2 separate regions of the Homo sapiens genome follow, and region 2 is linked to region 1. The links come from fine-mapping of genetic effects on gene expression. A gene starts in region 1. The other region holds a variant in brackets. All regions are shown on one strand. Distances are between the middles of the regions.

Region 1 (9,806 bases):
CTGTGGGTTTTTCTCCTCGTGTGGAGACGAGAGATTGTAGAAATAAAGACACAAGACAAAGAGACAGAAGAAAAGACAGCTGGGCCCAGGGGACCACTACCACCAAGACGCGGAGACCAGTAGTGGCCCCGAATGCCTGGCTGCACTGTTGTTTATTGGATACAAGGCAAAAGGGGCAGGGTAAGGAGTGTGAGTCATCTCCAATGACTGATAAGGTCACGTGAGTCACGTGTCCACTGGACAGAGGGCCCTTCCCTGTATGGCAGCGGAGGCGGAGAGAGAGAGAGGCCAGCTTACGCCATTATTTCTTCTATGCATTTCAAAGACTTTTAGTACTTTCACTAATTCTGCTACTGCTATCTAGAAGGCAGAGCCAGGTGTACTGGGTGGAACATGAAAGTGAAACAGCAGTGTGACTGCTGAAGCACAGCATCACGGGGAGATGGTTAGGCCTCCAGATGGCTGTGGGCAGGCCTGACTGATATGAGGCCTATCCACAAGAGGTATGGTGAAGCAGAGTCTGCTCTAACTCCCTTTCCCAGTCTGCTGAGTAACGGGTGCCTTCCCTAGGCACTGACGCTACCACTAGACCGAGGTCAGCTAAGTAATGGTTGCCTTCCCAGGCACTGGTGTTACCACTAGACCAAAGAGCCCTCTAGTGGCCCTGTCCGGGCGTGACAGAGGCTCACACTTGTCTTCTGGTCACTTCTCACCGTGCCCCTTCAGCTCCTATCTCTGTATGGCCTGGTTTTTCCTAGGCTGTAATTGTAGAGCAAGGATTATTATAATATTGGAATAAAGAGCAATGCTACAAACTGATGATTAATAATATTCATATATCATCATATCTATAATCTATTTCTAGTATAACTGTTCTCATTTTATATATTTTCTTTATTATACTGGAACAGCTTATGCCCTCGGTCTCTTGCCTTGGCACCTGGGTGGCTTGCCGCCCACAGAGGGAGGAGACAAACTGAGGCTTGCTGTGGGTTGAACCGTGTCCTCCCAGAAGATATATCCCTGTCCTAACCCCTCCTCCCATCTGTGAACATGACCCTACATGGACACAGGGTCTTTGCAGATGTCATCAAGAAAAGGTGATACCAGATTAGGGTGGGCCCTAAATCCAATTACTGGTGTCCTCATCAGAAGAGACAGAGAGACACAAAGTGGAGAACACACCGTGAAGGAGAAGGCAGAGATTGGGGTGATGGGTCAGCCCAGGAACGCAGAGGACCACGGGTCCTTACTAGAAGCTAGCAGAGAAACAGAACAAACTCTCTCAGAGCCTTCCAGGAGGAACCAACCCTTCTGACCCCTAGGTTGAAACTTCCCCTTCCAGGACCGTGAGAATAAATTCCTGAGGCTCTCAGCCACCCAGCTTGTGGCACTTTTGTTACAGCAGCCCTGGGAAGCTCACACACAGCCCTCCTGGAGGCAGTCTCTGCAGGAGACACCGCCCACCCGCCAGAGCGATGCCTACCTCCCGCACCAGCAGCGTGGGTGCCCTGGACGGGCACGTGCACACAAACCCCTCTTCACAGGGCTCCCCAGGCCCCAGGGCCCGTCAAGGCAGAAACACTCACCTCGCATACTGTCTCAGGCCAGTGCTGAACCATAATTAGTTTTTTCCACTCATGGTTGTCACTGTTAAAACATAAGAAACTTATTTTTCAAGAACTTTTTTTAAAGTTACAGAAAAAATTCATCCACCCATCCATCCCTTCAATCATTCATTCAGCACTGAGTGCTGTGGGAGGAGGAACACTGCCTGCCCTGCTGCTGCACACACTCCCGTGAGGAAGGCGGTACACCCCTACACTAAGAAGGCACGTGTGGTGGCGTCCAGTGCTGAGTGGCGGAGAACATGAATAGGATAAGGGGAGGAGGGGAGAGGAGGGGAAGCGGAGGCAGGGCAAGCTAGGAGTGCAGCCAGGGAGGGCCTCACTGAAGGGAAGCCACTGAGCCACGAAGCACCTTTCTCCTAAGGATGCTCAAGAGAAATGCAGACCCACGATCCCTCCCCTGCATTCGTGAAACCCATAAAAGCCTGAAACCTGGTAGTTTTTTGTAATTCATTTGGCAACAAAACATAACCTGAACTAGCATAACGCTATTTATCGTTACTACCCCAACTCAGTTTTTAGACTTCACTTGCTTCTCTGCAGAATTTGTGTCATTTGATTTTAGGGTGCTACTTCAGATGCCACCAGGACTGTTAACTTGAACACGGTATGTGCACTGCATCATGAATGTTATTCACGACATGGTATGCACACAGCACTGCATCACACGTGTTACCCAGAACCTGGGGCCACACTGGATCACAAACCTGAACACCGTGAAACTCATCTGACTCTAAGACTTCAAAGAAGCCACTGTGGAGCGGCAGCTTATTCATGGCAGTAGGCCTCTAGCCAGAACTGCAAGACTTAACGAGACTGAAGTAAAAAGAGCAGCTTGCAAAAAATGCACATGGAAAAAGCCAGCAGCAACACAGGATATAAGTCAAGCAGACACTTCAGGATAAATCAAATTTTAGAAGGGAAGATTCCAAGTAAGAAGATCAAGTTGTCACACATTAGCTTTTGTAAATAATTGAGTCCTGTTGAATTTGTATAGAATTTACAGTTAAGATGGTATGAAAACTTAGTTGTACATTGGAACTAATTATGCAAGCTCTCAGTATAAAAGGAAAAAAGGGTTCAAGCGTGGTGGCTCACACCTATAATCCCAGCACTTTGGGAGGCAGAGGCAGGAGGATTGCTTGAGCTCAGGAGTTCAAGACCAGCCTGGGCAACATGGTGAAACCCTGTCTCTACAAAAATTAGCCAGGTGTGGTGGCATGAACCTGTAGTCCCAGCTACTTGGAAGGCGCTGAGGCAAGAGGATAGCTTAAGCCCAGGAGGTGGAAGATGCAGTGAGCCCAGATCACATCACTGCACTCCAACCTGGGCTACACAGCCAGACCCTGTCTCAAAAAAAAAAAAAAAGGATGAGCTGCAGGGTGAGAATTGGAGCTGGTAAAGCATTTTTTACCCTTGGGTGAAAAACCTTATTTTACATAGTCGGAACCTGAGGCTGGAAAGCTTAGCAACACCCAGGAAGATGAGACTATCAATATGCTTACAACAAAACTACCAAGACTCAGACGTTTGTAACAAACTCTCCATCTAAAACCAGGCAGAGTGATGTGACTGCAGGAGACCCCCTCCCACACAGATGCCCCCCTCCCCTATTCACGGAGAAAGTAATGGAGAAGCTAAAGAAAGTCAAAGAAGAAAGAAAAATCACCAAGGTCTCAAAACCAGTTAGAACTTGGGAAAATGCCCGCTGACCTATGAAGCCCTCGTGGTCTGAATCAACCATGTTCTCGCAAATCTTGCCTGCTCAAGTTTGTCCGATCATATCAGTTGCATGAATTATGGGCTGGGGTGGGGGATCCACATATGACAGCCTGTTTTATGCTAATGTTTACTTCCAGCCAGACATCATTCCAAGTTACATTCTGTACCTTAACTGATTTCTCCTGAAGCCAACTCTGTGAGGCTGACTGTTACTATTTCTACTTTACAGATGAGGAAACTGGGGCATAGAGAGCTCAAAGGTCCCACACCTGGGTGTGAACTAGCAGTTTCCACTCAGCCAGCAAGGGCCAGCATGCCACAGACTTCCCCAGTGAGAGGCTCTGAACCTCATGGCCAATAAATAAGGACATAAATGTAGCTCTTTTTCAGAAAATACACTTTCCGGAACACTGAAATATAATGCTACATTTTAATGTACATGATTAAAAATATATACCTAAGGTGTTTAAAAAGTAAAACCCTGGCCGGGTGCAGTGGCTCACGCCTGTAATCCCAGCACTTTGGGAGGCCGAGGCGGGCGGATCACCTGAGGTCAGAAGTTCGAGACCAGCCTGGCTATTAAAAATACAAAAATTAGCCAGGCGTGGTGGTGTGCATCTGTAATCCCACCTACTCAGAGGCTGAGGCAGGAGAATCGCTTGAACCCGGGAGGTGGAGGTTGCAGTGAGCTGAGGTCACGCCACTGTACTCCAGCCTGAGTGACAGAGTAAGACTGTCTAAAAAAAAATAAATAAGTAAAACCCACCTTTTCCACACCTACTATGTAAGTAAGAAATCCTATTAACCCGATCATTACCCAAATAGAAAGAAATAATATGGTATTCAAATATTGGTATCTTCCACAGAATTAAAGTTGGAGTTCTTTGCAGCACCGCCTGTTTACCCCTAATTAATTTGGGCGGCTGCCACACACACACACGCACACACGCACGCACACACGCACGCACACACGCGCACACACGCACGCACGCACACACACGCACACACGCACACACACACACGCGCACACACGACACACACGCACAGACGCGCACACACGACACACACGCACACACACGCACGCACGCACACGCACACGCACGCACACACACACGCACACACAAACGCACACGCACACACACACACGCGCACACACACACGCGCACACACACACACACGCGGAGGGCGAGCCAAGGGAAGGGATTCAGAACAGGATACTCAAAAAGAGGAAGAACCGTCGTTTCACCACCCGCCGCAGTGAAAGCTGAAATTAAGTGTCCCCTCCACGACTTCTTCGACCTCTGAGAGAACTTCGAGTGCAGGAACAGTGCTCCACCAAGCCTGCCACCTGCTTTGTCGCGTCCTAGGCTGGGAGCAGTCTGTGGGATGAGTTTCCAGTCCAGCTCCAGGCTGGAGTGTACCCAGGACCTCACCCTACCCCCTACTCCTTCCCAGGGGTCACCCCGGGGAGTGTTCAGGGCTCCCCAACCCACTTCTTCCCAGGAGTCACCCCAGAGCGTGCCCAGGGCTCCCCCCAACCCACTCCTTCCCAGAGGTCACCCCGGGGCGTGCTCAGGACTCCCCTCATCGCACTCCTTCCCAGAGGTCACTTCTGAGTGTGCTAAGGGCTCCCCCCAACCCACTCCCTCCAGGGGTCACCCCGAGGCGTGCTCAACTTCCCAACTTCTTCCCAGGGGTCACCCCGGAGCGTGCTCGGCTCCCCCCGCCCTCCCCAGTCGCTGCCCGGGGCTCAGCGACCGCCGACCCCGAGAGCTGCAGCCTTCACCCAGTGGAAAGCTCTAGGGCCCGGCTCCCACGCTCCCCACTTTACCTCGCAAGGTAACTCACCGCAGGCGCTTGTCCGCACCGCCCAGGCAAAGCAACGCCAGGCAGAGGCAGCCCAGCAGGGCCCCGCGCAGGGCTGCAGGGCGCATGGTGCCGACCTGCGGAGAGAACGCTGCCAGCTGCCGCTCCGGCTCCCACTTCCCACCTGCTGCCCGAGGAAGACTTCCGGGAGAAACGCTGTCTCCGAGCCCCCGCGCCGCCGCGCTCCCTCCGCTGCAGCAGCGGCCACCGGGTGCGCCCGGAGCCCTGGGACGGCCTAAACCAGTATCTCGCGGGCCCCGCGCCGGGCTCCGGGAATGGCCGCAGCAGCCCTGGCGACCCGGGCCCCTCGGAGCTCCCCTTCAGGATCGTGCACCAAGCGCGCACGTCCCGGGCTCTGCTTCGCGACCCACAGCGACCCCAGCTCCTCCACGCTGCAGCCGCCGTCCGCCCACGACCACGGTCAGTCGCGTTGCTCCCAGCCCAGGGCGCCCTGCGGGCCTGCACCGGAGCAGAGAGCCACGCCCCCAGGACGGCACGCCCCCGCCGGTGGACACGCCCCCCAGAACGGCACGTCCCCGCCCGGCGTTCACGCCCCGCCCCGTGGTTGGCTCAGAGAGGCCGAGGCAGGAGCAGCTCCGCGGGCCTTGAGGGCGTGTCAGGCGGCTGTGTTCCTTCGCCACGCAGGCGCCCCGCGCCTTTTCCCGCAGCTCTGCGCCACTCCCACACTCCCGGGTCCGAGCTAACCTAGACCACCCGTGAGGACCGCCCTCGGGGGGACCGCCCGTGTCTGCGCCATCCCCCGCCAGCAAGTGGGCGTGCGGGCCCCAGGGCCACTCTACTCTCCAGGGACAGCCCCCAGCCCGACCCGCGCACCCTGCAGGCCCGCGGTCCGCACGCAGCACCCGCTTTCAAAAACTGCGCCCTGCAAGCTGCCCGGGAGCTCCTGACTGCAGATGGTGCTTGGCCGCCCAGGCTCCCCGCAGCCTCCCGCCACCTCGGCGCTCCACTGCGCAGCCCGAGGGACGGCTCCAGAATTAGGAGGGGACCTACTCGGGTCACTCTCCTGGAAACCTCTCCAGTCTCCCGGTGCTAGGTGCTGGGAGCACCAACATTCCTAGAAGGGCCTGGCCCTCACCCAGCCCTGGGCCTCACCTGCCCCTCCCCGCGGGCCCCAGGAGCCCGGAAGTCATCTCTGTGGGGGCAGCAAAGAGCCGCCTCGGGGCGCGACCTGGGAAGTCATCTTGTGAGGGATCCCCTCCCAGAGGGACGGGCCACCCCCCACGGATGAAGGGGACTTCATGTCAGCCCCACCTTGGCGTAGCCAGGGCCAGTCCCATAGGCCCGGTCTCCTCCCCCAACACCCTGGCCTTCCCAGCCCTTCAGAGGCACGGGTTCCCCTGCACCCGCGGCCCCGCCCACGGGCTGTGCACCCGGCATTGTCTCTGCAGATGTTTCTCCTCTTTCCCTTCCCTGTCCGCACACCCACAGCTAGTTAAGGCTATTCCTATTTACACGTCGAGTAAACTGCGCCTTCCTCGGGGTCCTCTGCCACTGGTAACTGTCTAAATAGCAGGTGGGCCTGTAGCCTGCTCTCCCACAGGCCTGGACCTTGCCTGCATGCATTACCATTCTTTGAAACAAAATATTTAAATGATTAATCTGTTTTTCCCACTAGACTGCAAGGCAAGGCCCATGTCTATTTTGCCCACCTTGAGTCCCTGCCACTGAGCACAGTGGATGGGGGACAGTCGGTGCTCAATAAAATGCCACCTGTGGAACAGATGGGGGGGGAAAATGGCTGACACCTCCTTAGCTCCTCCAGGACCTCCTACAGGTCATGGTGTTATTCTCGTTCTCCTTTTCCCTAACGACTTATTTGTTTCTTTCCGGCTCCTTTCATTCCTTCCTCTCAAGAATATAGGCACACGCCACAGTTCTTTTTCTCTTTTCTTTTAAGCTAAAAAAATAATTTTCTTAAAACAAAAGTGCTTCCCAGAATCCTCATTTTCCTTTAAATCACAGTCCGGTGTGTTTAAACAGCCCCTTGTCAAGGAGGGCTGTTGTGACCACTGCCAAATATAAAGCAAATCTGGACTCGGGGAGGAGTGGTGTTATGAGGACCATTATTGCAGGGGCCTGGGGGCCTTTTGTCCCTACTAAAAATACAAAAATTTGCTGGGCGGGGGTGGCACGCGACTGTAATCCTGTGGCAGGAGGAGCGGCAGACAAAACCTCTCAGACACCGAGCTATAGAAGGAAGGGCTTTATTCAGCTGGGAGCATCGGCAAGCTACTGCCTTAAAATCCGAGCTCCCCGAATGCACAATTTCTGTCCCTTTTAAGGGCTCACAACATTAAAGATTTCACATGAAAGGGTCGTGATTGATTTGAGCAAGCAAGGGGTACGTGACGGGCTGCATGCACTGGTGGTCAGAGAGAAACAGAACAGGGCAGGGAGTTTCACAATGTTCTTCTATACAATGTCTGGAATCTATGAATAACATCGGTCTCTAAGTCATGAGTTGATTTTTAACTACTAGGTTTAGGCCAGGCAGGCCCAGGTCCGGTTTTGGGCCTGGCGCCGGGCTGCCTGTCTTTGATTTCACTTCCTTGTTTTTTTCTTAAAACAGGTACTGAGTATAAAACAATATAAAACAATATGAGAGGGTCTCTCTCTTCCCTCAATCCCAGCTACTCTGGAGGCTGAGGCAGGAGAATCGCTTGAACCCAGGAGGCAGAGGTTGCAGTGAGCCGAGATCGCGCCACTGCACTCCAGCCTGGGCGACAGAGTGAGACTCGGTCAACAACAACAACAAAAAGAATGAATGAAAGAAAGAAGAAAGAGAGAAAAAGAAAGAGAGAGAAAGAATGAACTGGGAATGGAGAAGTGGGATGAGAACCTGCCTTCATAGGACATTAGATCAGAGAAGGTTGACCCCGTGGCCAGCCTGTTCTCAGGGGGGACTGACTCAGGCTAAGATGAGGCCAAAAGTCCTCAGCCTCGGGGGAAGAGAGGAGCCTCACCAAGTTTGCTTAACAAGTGTGTTATTTCTATTGACTGGCTCATCATTGATGAGGTGAAGAATGGGAATTGGAGGATCTGTGTCTGGCTTTGTCCTAGGTAATGGGTAGGGGGTGGAGTGAGGGGAGCATCCGTCACTTTTCCTTTTTTTTTTTTTTTTTTTGGAGACAGCGCCCAGCTGCATCACTTCTATCACTCTTACCTATGTTATGTGGGGAAGAAGGGGGTCTCTCGCAGCAAGCCACTTTCCACAACTCACAGAGAGGAGATTTTTATCAGATAAATTCAGCAGCGTCCTACCCAGCCTGAAGAAGCCACCCAGTCATTTCCTGTTGCACTTCCTTGTTTATTTTCGACACAGTTCTCCCCACCCCTGAGAATTCTTGTCACTTCCTCCTGTACTGCCCACTTCTACTCCCCCACCCCCACATCGGAAGCTAATGAGGAGCTTCAGGCCCCTTGCTGGCATGGGCCCCACCAAGACCCCATATCTCATTCCGTATTCACAATTTTACCTTCTTGTTCTTAAAGAAGGACATCCAAATGGAAAAGCTCTCAACCCCCCAAAACTTGGATGTGAACCTGGAGCATCTGTCATCTGTCTTGTTCACTACTTGTCCACCTACCAGGATCCTAAACGGAACCCTACGTAGGGAAGAGGCAGTGGCTGTAAAGGCTGGATTTGGGTCTGGAAGCCGCCCAGCTTTACGAAAACAAAGAGGGCTCCAGCATCAAGCAGGTGGGCAGGGGCCAGAGTGGGAATTACATTGACTCACACAACATAGTGTAAAAGGGTACAAACTATGAGGTTTAAAAGATGCTGCTGGCTTGTATAGAAACATGTCCTTAGGAGAGGGGAGGGGGACAGGATGGCAACAGCCATGTCTATGAACAGACATCCTTAAATCCTTGTTAATTCTGAAGAGACCAAGATACTTTCACCACACAACCTCTTCTTGGCATTAGCTCCAGGTTTCCTGTTTCCATGCCAGCTTTTGCTGGGTTATGCTACAATAATACACCGCCCCCAAATCTCAGTGTCTCACTTAAACGGAAGTTGATCATTTATCATTCATTTGCCCATATTCCATGCTGGCTATGCGTCAGATGCCACTGTGGTCCACGGTATTTTTCACTCTGGAACCCAGGCGGTAGGAACAGCCCATATCTGGTGCTGGCCATTCCAATGGCAGAGCAGTGGCACAACTACACAGTTTAGGATTCTCATGCTCTAAAGAGCTTTGTCACACTTGAAAGAATCTCACCTTAAAAACTCCTTTCCATCCTGAATTACTTATTTGCTGAGAAAGTGAGGCCAGCTGCTGGGTGTTTCCCTGCCCTTTCTCTTCTTTTTCTTTTTCTTTTTTTTTTTTTGAGACAGAGTCTCACTCTGTCAGCCAGGCTGGAGTGCAGTCAGTGGCACAATCTCGGCTCACAGCAACCTCCGTCTCCCAGGCTCAAACAATTCTCCTGCCCTAGCCTCCCGAGTAGCTGGGATTACAGGCGTGTGCCACCACGTCCGGCTAATTTTTGTGTTTTTAGTAGAGACGGAGTTTGACCATGTTGGTCAGGGTGTCCCAGCACCTCTGGCCTTGCCATGCCAGCCTG
Region 2 (13,415 bases), 18 kb before region 1:
ATTTTGGGTATCACTCCATATACTCTGGCAAGGGCATCTTTAAAATCTGCAACCTGATTTTAAATACAAGTGTATTAGAAATTAAACTTCAACAGAAAAGATCTGACAGTTCTGGACTATCCTGAGCGCAACAGTGGCAGGGTCCTGGTCTCCCTTGGCTGGCAGGGACAGGACCCAGCACAGGTGTGAGAATGATGCCCCCACCTCCACCAGCGAAGCAGAGGATGCTGTCAACCTGGGCTTCATCCCCAGACCACAAGCCGCTCGCTGCGGCTCTGTTTTCCTCTCTGCTCCTGTTTCTCTGGAGAGCAGAGCTCTCCTCCTCCCAGTGTCTTTCTGGGCCCCGAGCTGTCTCACCTGAAACGCCACCTGCCACAGCCACCCTCATCCACCAACAACTACTCTGCCTTTCGCGGCCCATAAAGCTTTCTCAGCCCTGTCCACTCTGAAGTATCTCTCTCTCCCGACCCCCTCCCCACGGTGGACACATTCTCCTTCACAGAAGAAAGGCCCTGGGACCCCTCAGCTACCGGTCCCGAAACTGCAAACCTAGACCCCCCTGTGCTCCAACCTCCTCTTGGATGAGGGGCCTCCTCCTCGCTCTACTGAGGGAGTCCTCCCCCACTGCTTCTGCCTCGTGCCTTCTGACTCAAACCTCCTAGGAGGACACCTGCATCCTCTCAGCCTCGTACTCTGGCTTTGGGGGGCACCAAGCTGGGGTCACCAGCTCCAGCAGATGCCTTTTGCCCCTTGCCTCAGACACTGTCCACTCCTTCCACGAAGCTCTCCTGTGGGCCTCCTGAGCACCTGCTCCACTGACCGCCTGGCTGCCGGCTGCCATTCCTGCCCCATCTCCTTGGCCTCCTTCTTCTCCTTCACTTATGGCGAGTTTTCACTGCCTTCCATTGGAAGCTATCTTTTCCACCCCATGGCTTCCCTCCCATCCAGACCTCTCTTCCTGGACTCTGCAGAGAGCTCCAATTCGAACTGTCCATGCAGGGTCTGATCATCCTCCCCTCTTGCCAAGCTTCTGACACCAGCAAATGTCACTCCTATGGAGGCCTGAGGCAGGACCTCTGCCTCTCCCATCCCCCTGTCCCAAACGGCCAAGTCCAAGCTCCCCACACTATCCCTTCCTCTCCAGCTGCATAGCCATAGGCCCAGATTCCCCCAGCATGTGACCTACTCGGAGGGTCTCTGTGCCTAGCCTCTCCCCAGTACCACGGGGACAGCAACAAGCAAACACCCCGGCCTACTCAGAGCTCAGCGCTGCTGGAGGATGAGGTCCTCATGTCTATGGCTCCCACCCGGCCCCTTCCCAACCCTCCTGCTCTGCCCCTGAGCCCCCTCAAGAAGCAACTGGTCCCATATCTCCCAGCCCCCAGCCCCCAGCTCTGCTCCACTGAACCACTCCCCTCAGGGCCTGGGCAGGCTGCAGGCCTCCATCTCAGCAACGCATTTCCCAGGAAATGTCTGGGTCGGCAGCTCTCCTGGGTGCTCCCGCAGCCCTGATTTCCCCATAAAACAGATGAGTGGATACGTGGCTGGATGCTGGATGCAAAAGCAACAAATTTCTCCTGATGATAAATCAAACTCCTTTCAAAGGACAGGACTCCGAGTATCCACCGTGCTGTTTCTGATGCCCAAACAAGCGCCGTTCGCACCTGGAAGCAGCTCAGCAAATGTGTGGCCCCTGTGGCTTTTGCCACCCCTGTAATCAGTTCCCTGAACACCGAGCTCTGGGCAAACATGGCAGGCACATGTCCCTCATCTATTCGCACATGAGTCCAGGTGAGGACGGTGAGGGCCCTGCAAGCGATCATCTTACGGCTTCCTGGGGTTGGGGTTGAGGGGGAGTCTGGAAAGGGCTGGTAGACTCCTTCCTCAAGTCCACTGCTCCCCACACTCTGGAAAAATGGCTGCACAGGTAAGCAGACACCATGAGAGCAAAGACACTGTTGCCAATTTATTTCACAAACAGTCAAGATACCAAAATAATTGTTCAACATCCAGCCATCGCCCCAGAACTACTAAGATCAGTGACTTTCAACCTTTTTCTAAATCCACAACCTGTGATAAATACGAAAACTATCTCAAAGAATCTGATACCTTTCTCTAAGGCAAGAGTCTGCAAACATTTTCCGTAAAGGTCCACGTCGTAAATATCCCGGGATTTGTGGATGACACATCGGTCCCTACTGCAGCTACACCATGGGAGCACAAGCATCCCCAGGTAACAAAGGAGTACAATTTTGTTTACAAAAACAGGCAACCAAGAGTTGAAAACAACTACTTTTTCTTTTTTTTTTAAAGAGACGTGATCTGGCTGTCGCCCAGACTGGAGTGCAGTGGGGCGACCATGGCTCACTGCAGCCTCAAATTCCTGGGCGCAGGCAATCCTCTGACCTTAGCTTCCTGAATAGCTGAGACCACAGACACATACTATCATGCTCAGCTACTTTTACTTCTTTCTAGAGGTCTCACTCTGCTGCCCAGGCTGGTCTCGAAATTCTAGCCACAAGCAATCCTCCAGCCTGAGCCTCCCAAGGTCCTGGGATTTATAGGCGTGAGTCACCACACCTGGCAAAAAGCAACTTTTTGTATATGCTTACCAGCTAATAACATCTTGTCATGCTTAAATATCTATAGTTTCTTTTATCATAAAACAAATCACAATTTTATCATGAAAACAAACCACAAACAAATATAAGACTACGTTATAAAAGTGAATGTGACTCTTGAAACTGCAGATTCCACCTGCTCTGCCGGACCCTGGAGCACACACTTCTCACAAAGGGAGCCATGAAATCTGTGCTTCCAAATCACTGGTCTAAGCAGCCTTCAGCTCCTACTCAACATGCGCAGGAAAATAAAATGCAAATAAAATCTGTTCACATGATAACATTTAAGTAGGAAGGGGGTTTGCACTGGGGCAATTTACAGCCCATTGACTCAGAGGCTGAAACGGCCCTACTGGAGGTCCCCGGGAGAGACACACGAGAAAAGAAGCAAAAGCAAGACTTACTTGGTAGTAATTGATGGATGGTTTTATCCCCAATTTTAGAAGCACACTAAAATTTAAATTTAAAAAAGTTAGCTGTATAATGAAGGTCCACTTTGCTTTCTTGTTCTTTTCAGGTATCATATTTCATGGTAAAAATTAAGACACTCTTAAAGGAAAGTGTTTTCTATGACTTTATGCAACAAATGTGTCAACATGGACTGCAAATACATGGTTCCCAGTCCCCGCCTTCCCCACCCCTTAGCACACACACAAACTGCTCCAGGCAGGTACCCTTTCCAGTTCCTGACTCCTTCGGAGCATGGGAGCGCTGGGGCCACCACCGAGTGGAGCTGGCACACACATCACCACCCGTTTGCCACACCTGCTTTAAAAGACAGCAATTGAAATCGGATTCCAGGCTTATCCTGGTAAACTGCATTTGGACAAATCTTTAAACACAGTCATGCGCCACATTACGACATTCAGTCAGTGAAGGCCTGCATGTACGAGGGCGGTCCCATATGACCACATTTCTACTGTGCCTTTTCTATGTTGAGATATGTTTAGATACACAAATCCTTACCATTGTGTTACATACAGGTGCCTACAGTACTCAGTAGAGTCACACACTGTACAGGTTTGTAGCCTCGAAGCAACAGGCTATACCACAAAGCATATGTGTGTCGTGGGCTGTATCAGCTAAGTAAGTGCACTCCAAGATGTTCACATGACAATTTTATACCCCATCACCAAGCAATACATAACCGTATGGTAAGTCCCTACAGCTTTCAATCACCTCCTAAAGCACTTCTACACAGAATCCTACCAAACTACCATATATAGAATTCACTTATTAAA[G/T]TATAAAGGTACACTGTAAAATTCTGAATCATTGCAGAAGAATATCCTAGTTCCCCATCAAGCCTTGGTAGAAAATTCTAGATCACGATCACAGAGTGGACACAAAGACTTAGACATCCTCTGTGGGCAATAACTTATTGTCAGACTGTCTTGGCCACAGAGTTCCTGGAACAAGGACCGAGATGCCGGACCAGGGTCCTTTCAGCCCCATCATGGCCCGAACCCACAGGACCTCGCCTACCCTAGCTGTTGGTGTTGTATGAATAACAGGTTTCAGACTTTGCAGTTAAAAAAAAAAAATGTAAACTAGCTTATTAATTTTTTAATATTTATCCTAAGTTTCGATGATCCTATTTTTGATATATTGAGTTTAATAAAATATTTTTGAAATTAATTTAACCTGTTTCTTTTTGCTCCTTTTAATGATGCTACTAGAAAATTTAAAATGACATCTGTGGCTCGTGTTACACGTCTATTGGGTAGCATGCTCCTGACTTGGGTGATCAAGGGAATACGGCAAAGAGAGAAAGATGTGGGGAAATGCAGCACCTAACCCAGCATCATGCTTTCTGCTGAGTTGAGATGAGCTTGGCACGCATCCCAGGTCTTTATCTGTGGGTACTCTAGCACGTGCCATCAGCTCATCTGTGTCTATGGGAACCCTGACAACTTTGCTTCAAGATGATTTGTGGTTTTTCAGGTTTGCTGCCTTCATATTATGAAGTGAAGAAAAACAAGCTACAATTTTTTATTCTATTTTATTTTTTTGACACAGAGTCTTGCTCTGTGGCCCAGGCTGGACTGCAGTGGTGCGATCTCGACTCACTGCAACCTCCGCCTCCTGGTTTCAAGAGATTCTCCTGCCTCAGCCTCCTGAGTAGCTAGGATTACGTGCACCACCATGCCCAGCTAATTTTTGTATTTTTAGTAGAGACGGGGGTTTCACCATGTTGGCCAGGCTGTTCATGAACTCCTGACCTCATGATCCACCCGCCTTGGCCTCCCAAAGTGTTGGGATTACAGGCGTGAACCACTGTGCCCAGCCTGTTCCAGTTTATGATAATTTGAAAAGCCAACCTATGAGAAAAAGATAATTTGTGATACCAGTTTACAAGGAAAAATGAGGGGTCTTAAATTTTGACTTCTTAATTTAATTTTTAGATTAAAATGAAGGCACTAAGAATTATAGATTTCCCTTGGAGAAACTAAGAATATAATTTTCCTATAATTGTTCTTTATAGGTTTTAGCAAACATACTCTCAGTAGTGCTTTGCCCTGGCAGGCCCTCAGTGAACATTTACTGAATGAATGAATGAATGAATGAATGGAGGACGCACCATTCCCATCTACAGCAATGGCAGGGCAGCACTGGGCTCTGCTGAATCCCCACAGGAACTCCAGGACTTAGAGTTTTGCATGTGTCGTGTGTGTGTGTGTGTGTGTGTGTCTCAGTCTGTCTAGTGTCGCTATACAGGAATACCTGAGGCTGGGTAATTTATTTAAAAAAAGAGGTTTTTTTGGCTCAGGGGTCTGCAGGCTGTCCGAGAAGCATGGAACCAGATTCTGCTTCTGGCAAGGGCCTCAGGAAACTTCCGCTCATGGCAGAAGGCAAAGGGGAGCTGGTGTGTACAGAGATCACATGGCCAGAGAGGAAGCCAGGGGTTGGGGGCGGTGCCAGGCTCCTGTTAACAACCAGCTCTCTGGGGAACTGAGTGGGAACTCGCTCACCCCTGCAAGGGGGCATTAACCTACTCATGAGGGATCCTTCCCCGCAGCTCAAACACCTCCCACCTCCACACTGGTGATCAAATTTCAACATGAGATTTGGTGGGGATAAACCAACCACATCCAAACCATAGCAGGAAAGCTACTGAGTTTCAACGAGTGTAAGTAGGAGCCACTTAATAAACTATTTGTTGGATACAGAGATGAATTATTTAGATGATTGATTTTAAAATTTTCAGTAGTATCCATTTATCCTTTCTCTGTTTGATTAAATGAACTGGTTTATGGAGTCAGCCTGGAAAACACCAGCACTCTGCAGCAGGGTCAGGACTGTGAGACCCCTGTTTTGAAACAGAGGGCATCTTTCTTGTCATCTCCAAAGTGGGTCCTACCCTGCCAGTCTTTCAGCAATGTCAGACTTTCTTTTTAACTGCAAGTCTCCTGTGCTCCAGGAGCTACCTAAGACACTCTCTTGGTTAATCCTCATAATGACTTTTTTTTTTGAGACAGTTTTGCTCTTTTCGCACAGGCTGGAGTGCAATGGCACGATCTCAGCTCACTGCAACCTCCACCTCCTGGGTTCAAGCCATTCTCCTGCTTCAGCCTCCCGAGTAGCTGGAATTACAGGCATGCACCACCACACCTGGCTAATTTTTGTATTTTTAGTAGAGATGGGATTTCACCATGTTGGCCAAGCTGGTCTTGAACTCCTGACCTCTGGTGATGCACCCACCTCAGCCTCCCAAAGTGCTGGGATTACATGCATGAGCCACCACACATGGCCCATAATGATTTCTGAACAGCTAATTAGCTACATTTGTTAGGTGAGAAAATGTTTCCTAAAATATTGCTCTTACTGCAAGAAAGCAATGCTTCCTTTATTAAAAACCTAAGATTAAATTACATAGATCAAATTATATACACAAACTATATACAAATCAAAGTGTATAGGTCTGTGTACGTTTCTTAGTGTATATACCTGGTAGTGCAGATTTTAAGAGCTGGAAGAGACTTCAGGGTTGAGGGCAACCTATCCATTTATTTCACAGCATGGAAAAAAGAGCTAGAGGTTAGATACACAAATTGTACAACTAGTTAGTGTCAGAACCAGGATGAAAAGGCACACCTAATGCCACGCGCTCTGGGAGGTGATTTTTAAAGAAGTTTATTCACAGGGCATTCTTTGATGTAATCTTGATCCCCGCTAACCGTGCCAAGCCCCTCTTCTATCAGTGCCTGAGCTCTATCCCACCCAAGTTGCAGCTGTTAGACTGCGTTTCATCAGATGACACAGGAGACCATCTGTGTGAGACGATTTTGTACGTTGAGGAGGCAAAGCACATGTCTAGATAAGCAATGGAGGTTTATTCATCTTTTAAGCAGTTTTGATTCAGAAACCTTAAATACAGCTGATTAGCTAAGGCTCCTGGTATTATTCTGATTTGAAGGAGAATTGCTCTAAAACAAGCTGCGTGAATTCCAAAAGCAGCAACACAGAGGCTGTGCAATTGCCTGTCATGTTTTTCACGACTTCACTGGTTTATTATGACCTCTTATGATGAAGGTCAGTGAGAGCAGCTAAGACGCTGACACCCTGAAACGTCCCGACGGAGAGGTAAGGGCACACCCTGGCTCTCTAGCAACCAGATTCGGACAGTGAGTGGGCTCGGTGTGGCGCTCAGAAGGCACTTTGCTTTACAAGTCAACTGGCTCAAGTGGGACAACGTATTCCACTTCTCAAGAATAGAGGTGAGGGCAGGCAGGGACGATTTAGGCAGGTTGGGGTCATTTCTGGGGCTTAAAGAACCCTGGCCCACATCTCTTTCCTGCCTGCTTGTTCCAGGAGTTCTGCGGCAAAGACCTACAGACTTCCAGAGTTTCCGTCTTTCTAAGGAAACGACTTATTAATGCACTATCCTTTATCAGGAATCATGGCTGAGAACGGCACATGCTGGTTGGAGTCCTCGTTTTCCCTATGGCCGACTCTGATGATGAGATGGTGCCCAGATGGGCATCCCAATACTCTGCACCCACTCTGTGTGATCGTGATGTAGAATGATCTGGAAAGGCTTGGTAGGCTCAGAACATTCCTCAGGAATGATCCCAGTAGCCGAATAGTGCACATGCAGAAGCTGCTGGAGGGCAGTGAGGTCTACACCCACTCCCCTGGATCCAGCTGTCAGGCTTGGGCGACAGCAGAGATCCCCACTGGGAAGTGCAGCCGGGGGAAGGGCGCACCCACCTGTTGAGGTCCAGCTCCCTGTAGAGTTCCAGGCTTCTGCCAAAGTACTTCTTCTGGGAGTTGAGCGCATCCACCTGGGCGGCGCAGGTCCCATGCTTTTCCCACTCATGCTTCCTGTGAGGATTAGGAAAAATCTCCACTTAAAAGTAGTGAAACAGGCTGCGTGCAGTGGCTCATGCCTGTAATCCCAACACTTTGGGAGGCTGAAGGGGGTGGATCACCTGAGATCAGGAGTTTGAGACCAGCCTGACCAACATGGTGAAACTGTCTCTACTAAAAATACAAAAAAATTAGCCGAGTGTGGTGGCAGGTGCCTGAGATCCCAGCTACTCAGGAGGCTGAGGAGGAGAATCGCTTGAACCCGGGAGGCAGAGGTTGCAGTGAGCCAAGATCATGCCATTGCACTATAGCCTGGGCAAGAGACAAACTCCATCTCAAAAAAAAAGTAATGAAACTGATTCCCAATTAAAATGCTCAAGCATGTTTTCTCTCAGCACAGACTATTCCCATGTGGTAGGCATGTCATTTCTTTTACAAAGTAGGAAGGATAAAATTCCTTATTTGCAACATAGGCAATTATTTCAATCCCCCACGATTAAATAATCAGTTTCAGTTCACGTCTACAATTACAGCTTGCTCAATTAACAACAAATCAAAGCTGAGAAAAAAGAACATGCTGCTGCCCCAACCCCCACTGATTCACAAAGCAACGTGTGGTCTCCTGCAGTGAGTGGGTGCTTTGCAGTCAGGGAATTTCGCAGAGTGGCACAAACTGTCATTTCTAAGCAACCAGCCATGGAAAGGCAGGACAGCTAATTACCAGGAAACACCTCAGGCCCATTTTCCATTTCAGCTTCTACAAATTATAGTTTAAGCATCCATTCTACATAGAGGACAATAAGAACAACTGAATAGCCTATAACTAAAGGGCTGCACGTGAACAGCAATTTGTATTCCAGAAAAATGTGGTCACTGAGAATGATTCCTGATATTTTACTGCAGATTAAAGGTTTACAAAAATCTTTCACGTTCTTCGTTTGGTTCTCAAAACTCTGCAAGGCGGAAATATCACTGCTAGTTTACAGACAGGGAATGGAAGCCCAGAAGGGCCAGGGGACTTGCTGAAGGTCACTCAGAGCCTGCCCTTGAAGGCCACGCTCAAGTCCAAGGTCAGCGCCCTTCCCACTGCACTGGGCTGTCATCCAATCAACTGCTGACGAGATTGACAGCCACCTTCAGAATGACTGGCGTGTCATCAGATGTTTATCATCTTTAGCATGAAAAGACAAAATGGGAATCAGATTTCCTCAGCTTTATTGGTGATGAATTCATGAAGTTTTAATAAATAACATTCATGCAACCACTTATAAAGCACTTATATGCAGTCTTAAAAACACAATCTAAATGTGCATTAATTCACTGGCAAAATTCATCCAAAATACTAGTTTTAAATAATTCCTATTGATTTAACTCTCAGAAAATGATGAAAAGTTGAAAACAGGAACGATGAAAGTGGATGAGTAACTGTCTTCATCTAGAAGCCTTTCCAGAGCAAATTACCTGATAACTTCCTATATCCTATAAGGTAGAAAAAGGAGATTATTTTAAACTAATTGAAATGTAACCTGAATTCCAGGTGACTTAGTTTCTATAAAACAGGGGTAATTCTGCAGGTGAGATGAGGTGTGCTGAGCCCTTCCACATGAATGAAAACAGTTCCTGGCTCACAATAAACAGTAAATGTCAGCCATCATTATTCCTGGAGCAAGCTTAACTCAACAGATGTTGGAAATAGATTGATATTCATGGAGCTCACAGCATTCACTCACACTTCATTTGGACTGGACCTTTTTTTTTTAAGCATCAGAACGGTCAGTCACCAATGCGAAGTGACTCAGCGTGTTGCCCTCTGTGCTGAGAGACACCCTGACTCACCCACCAAGAGCAGATGCAGCCAGGAGCGGATGTCCCAGGCTCACCCACCCACTGTCACCCAGCCCGCTCGGCCACAACAGGCAGCCAGTCCTCGGGGCTGGTTATGCCCAAAGACACATTCCACAGCAGTGCTGTGACACCTTCCCCTGCCCAAGGAGCAGAGGTGGAGAAGCCAGAGGCCAACCCCCATGGAGTTAGTCAGGTGACTTGAGTGATAGGCACAGGACTGGGTGACACAGCCCAGACAGGAGCTCCTCCCTAGCTGATATTTTGTATTTAGGAGCACTCAAAAATATAAATATTAATTTGTGTGTGAGATTTATCTTTTTCATTTAGAACCAGTTTTTTAAGTGTGTAATTCAACTATCAACCTGAAAATTTAAAGTAAGTCATCTTGCCTTTATCAGAGCCCAAAAATAAATGCATACTGTGCCCACACTGTTTTGATTAAATGCTCAAGACCCAGCTCACTGAAGGCCTTTGCATGTTTGCTGATTTATTTTAAGCCATTTAGCTAAAATCTGACAGACTCTATCATGGAACATTGTAACAACTGGAAAAATTCTCTTTCACATAACTCAGTTACCATAAACTCATCATCTGAAGTACACTGTGAAGTGACATATAATTTTTTTTCCTATCTTCTTCCATTCCAACTTATCATGGCCATTATTTTGAAATAATTTTCTAGAACACAGGCTGTGCAGAACAGGTGACTGAGACCTGAACCATTCACCACCCGAATTTTCAAGGGTGATTCAACGCACAGACTGAGGGTCCATGAATCCTAAGGCCACTTCACTGCCACACCGATGAACCAGAAAGGGGGACATCACTTCCATTTCATTTTGTTTTCAAAAGCTTTCTTCTAAACTTAACTTTTAATTTTCCTGAAAATTATACACAAAAATATTTCTAGGTTAATCTTCCCACCTAAAATTTGATGGGTTGTAATCTGAATTATAAATTGCAATATTGAAGTGGGATAGAGAAAATAATTACCTTCAGTTAATATAATGTTAATACAAGGAATTTAACTTTATGTTCTTAAAAAAGCCAGGATTTTAAAAGCTATCTTGAATTCAACATGGCGTTTATGCCCTAGGCTTAGCTTCTGCTGAACTTAAAGGTGCTTCACTATGACTGAGGTCTCAGCCTCACATGCTAAGTCTCACTTTCTCTCCTCCCTAAGTCATAGGCATGAGATCATCATTTTAGAAGACATCTTCTTTTTTTTTTTTGAGATGGAATCTTGCCCTGTTGCCCGGGCTGGAGTACAGTGGTGCAATCTCGGCTCACTGCAACCTCCATCCCCTGAATTCAATTGATTCTCCTGCCTCAGCCTCCCAAGTAGCTGGGATTACAAGCGTACGCCATCATGCCCAGCTAATTTTTGTATTTTTAGTAGAGATGGGGTTTTGCCATGTTGGCCAGGCTGGTCTCGAACTCCTGACCTCAAGTGATCCACCTGCCTTGGCCTTCCAAAGTGCTGGGATTACAGGTGTGAACCACTGTGCCTGGTCTCTTTTTTCTTAATGTATTTGAAGACAGGAGCACAATTTCCTTAAGAAATATTCTCTCCTGTCTGATATGGACTAATTCTTAGATATGCAAGCATTGGACTTTGTTAAGCCTCAGAAGAGAAAATTTGTATCTTTATTTTGTTTTTGAGACAGGGTCTCACCCTGTCACCTAGGCTAGTTATCACCCCAGCTGATCACAGCTCATTGCAACCTTGATCTCCCGGGACCACAGCCGCACAATACCACATCTAGCTGACCTTTTAAATTTTTGGTAGAGGTGGCATTTTGTCATGTTACCAGGCTGGTCTCAAACTCCTCAGCTCAAGCAATCCACCCGCCTCAGCCTCCCAAAGTGCTAGGATTACAGGCACGAGCCATTGTGACTGGCCGAGAAAAGTTTTAAAGCAAAGTAATAAATACCATACAGGTTAGAAAACAGGCTTATATGGTAAATTCCACTTGCTTTCAATTTTTTATACATTGGAGAAAGGCACCAAAAATGCCGTAACAGAATCATATCTCATAAAAGGTTGTTCAAACTGCTCAGCCCCAGAAGACAGATTCTGTTATCTTGCTTCCCACACAGTTTCCACTTCTAGCGATTCATCACGCTCCCCACACCCGCTCAGACAGTAATCAAGACAGCAATCAGAGGCTGGGACTTACCAGAAGCGGCTGCGATTGGGAAACGAGTGAATTACGTCAGGCCAGTATGCCCTCATTTCTGGCAAAAGATCCTATGCATTAAAAAATAAAATAAGTCTACGCAGGTTCTTAATAATAAACTCAAAACCTAGAAGGTAAATTTGATAAACTGACACCAAAGAATTGAGCTCTGCTAATTAACAATACTTTGGTGAATAAAATAATCCTATGCTTATTTTGTATGAAGTGTTTGTTAAGATATATCTACAAGTGCAATTTGAGTAATCATAAAACTGCACACGAAAATACAAGCTGTTATAGGTGAAGGGATAAAGTGTACATCCAAACAATGGAATATTTTCAGCAACAAAAACCAATGAGCCGTCGAGTCATGAAAAGACACTGGAGGAACTGCAAACATACATTGCTAAGTGCAAGAAGCCAGTCTGCAGAGGCTACATACTGTATGATTCCAACGACGTGACAATTTGGAAAAGGTAGTCTTAAGAGACAGGAATGAGATTCGCGGTTGCTTGGGGGTTCAAGGGGAGGAAGAAGGGGAGGTATGGCTCAGGGGGTTTAGGGCCAGCGGCTGCTCCAGAGCACACTGGGTGGGACTTGCTCTCCTGCATTTGTCCAAAGCCGCACAACACAGGAGTAAACCCTAATGTTAATGCTAAACTTTATTTAATAATAAAGTATCAGTATCAGTTCATTAATTGTAACAAATGTAACACACTATAGAAGATGTTAATGATTGGGAGAGTTGAGGGGGAAGGGAGTGAACTGTCTGTAATCTCCATCCAATTTTTCTGTAAACCTATAACTGTTCTAAAAACATTGGCCGGGCACGGTGGCTCACGCCTGTAATCCCAGCACTTTCGGAGGCCGATGCGGGCGGATCACGAGGTCAGGAGATCGAGACCATCCTGGCCAACCTGGTGAAACCCTGTCTCTACTAAAAATACAAAAATTAGCTGGGCACGGTGCCACATGCCTGTAATCCCAGCTACTCAGGAGGCTGAGGCAGGAGAATCGCTTGAACCAGGGAGTCGGAGGTTGCAGTGAGCCGAGATTGCGCCACTGCACTCCAGCCTGGCGACAGAGTGAGACTCCATCTTAAAAAAAAACAAAACGAAACCATCAGTTAAAACAAACAAACAAACAAAGGACAAGCTCTCCTTTTCCCAGAGAAGAGCTTGTGTGAGCTGGGCAGCCTGGGCACCAGTCGCGCTAAATCCAACAGAACTGGAGTTTACTTTTCTATTTCTACACACCCTCTACACCAAAAAAACCCCAAAAAGGTCAGTAAAAAGGTGCTTAACAAACTTCGGATAACTTCACTTTCCTTCCCTTTCTCCTGTTTTCCAGCACCCTATATGAGGGTCCTTTTCTCAGCCCATTTGTAACTCAGCCCCTACCCCACAGCCCCTGCCTGTGTGGGCGCAGCTCTGTCCCCCTCCTCTTCCCCTCCAGCCCCCCA

The links. PIP is the estimated chance that this variant, and not a neighbour inherited with it, causes the effect.
Region 2: its variant is fine-mapped to the expression of RNASET2 in whole blood (GTEx, PIP 0.96).

Annotation. Positions count from the first base shown.
Region 1 is chr6:166,950,899-166,960,704 of GRCh38, forward strand. It overlaps RNASET2 (ribonuclease T2), which reads right to left and starts at 5,652. Exons shown (of 9, transcript NM_003730.6): 1 at 5,199-5,652; 2 at 1,590-1,650. The coding sequence starts at 5,284. RefSeq lists enhancers at 1-543, 17-702, 7,602-7,721, silencers at 5,418-6,177, 6,218-6,317, 6,588-6,637 and a cis regulatory region at 8,402-8,688.
Region 2 is chr6:166,931,066-166,944,480 of GRCh38, forward strand. It overlaps RNASET2 (ribonuclease T2), which reads right to left. Exons shown (of 9, transcript NM_003730.6): 5 at 11,954-12,024; 6 at 7,830-7,943; 7 at 3,026-3,071; 8 at 1-53. It also overlaps the pseudogene LOC105378119. Among named protein-coding and RNA genes, the nearest start is that of RNASET2, 19 kb to the right of the region's middle. RefSeq lists an enhancer at 9,830-10,330. The variant G/T (reference allele first, on the strand shown) is at 3,863.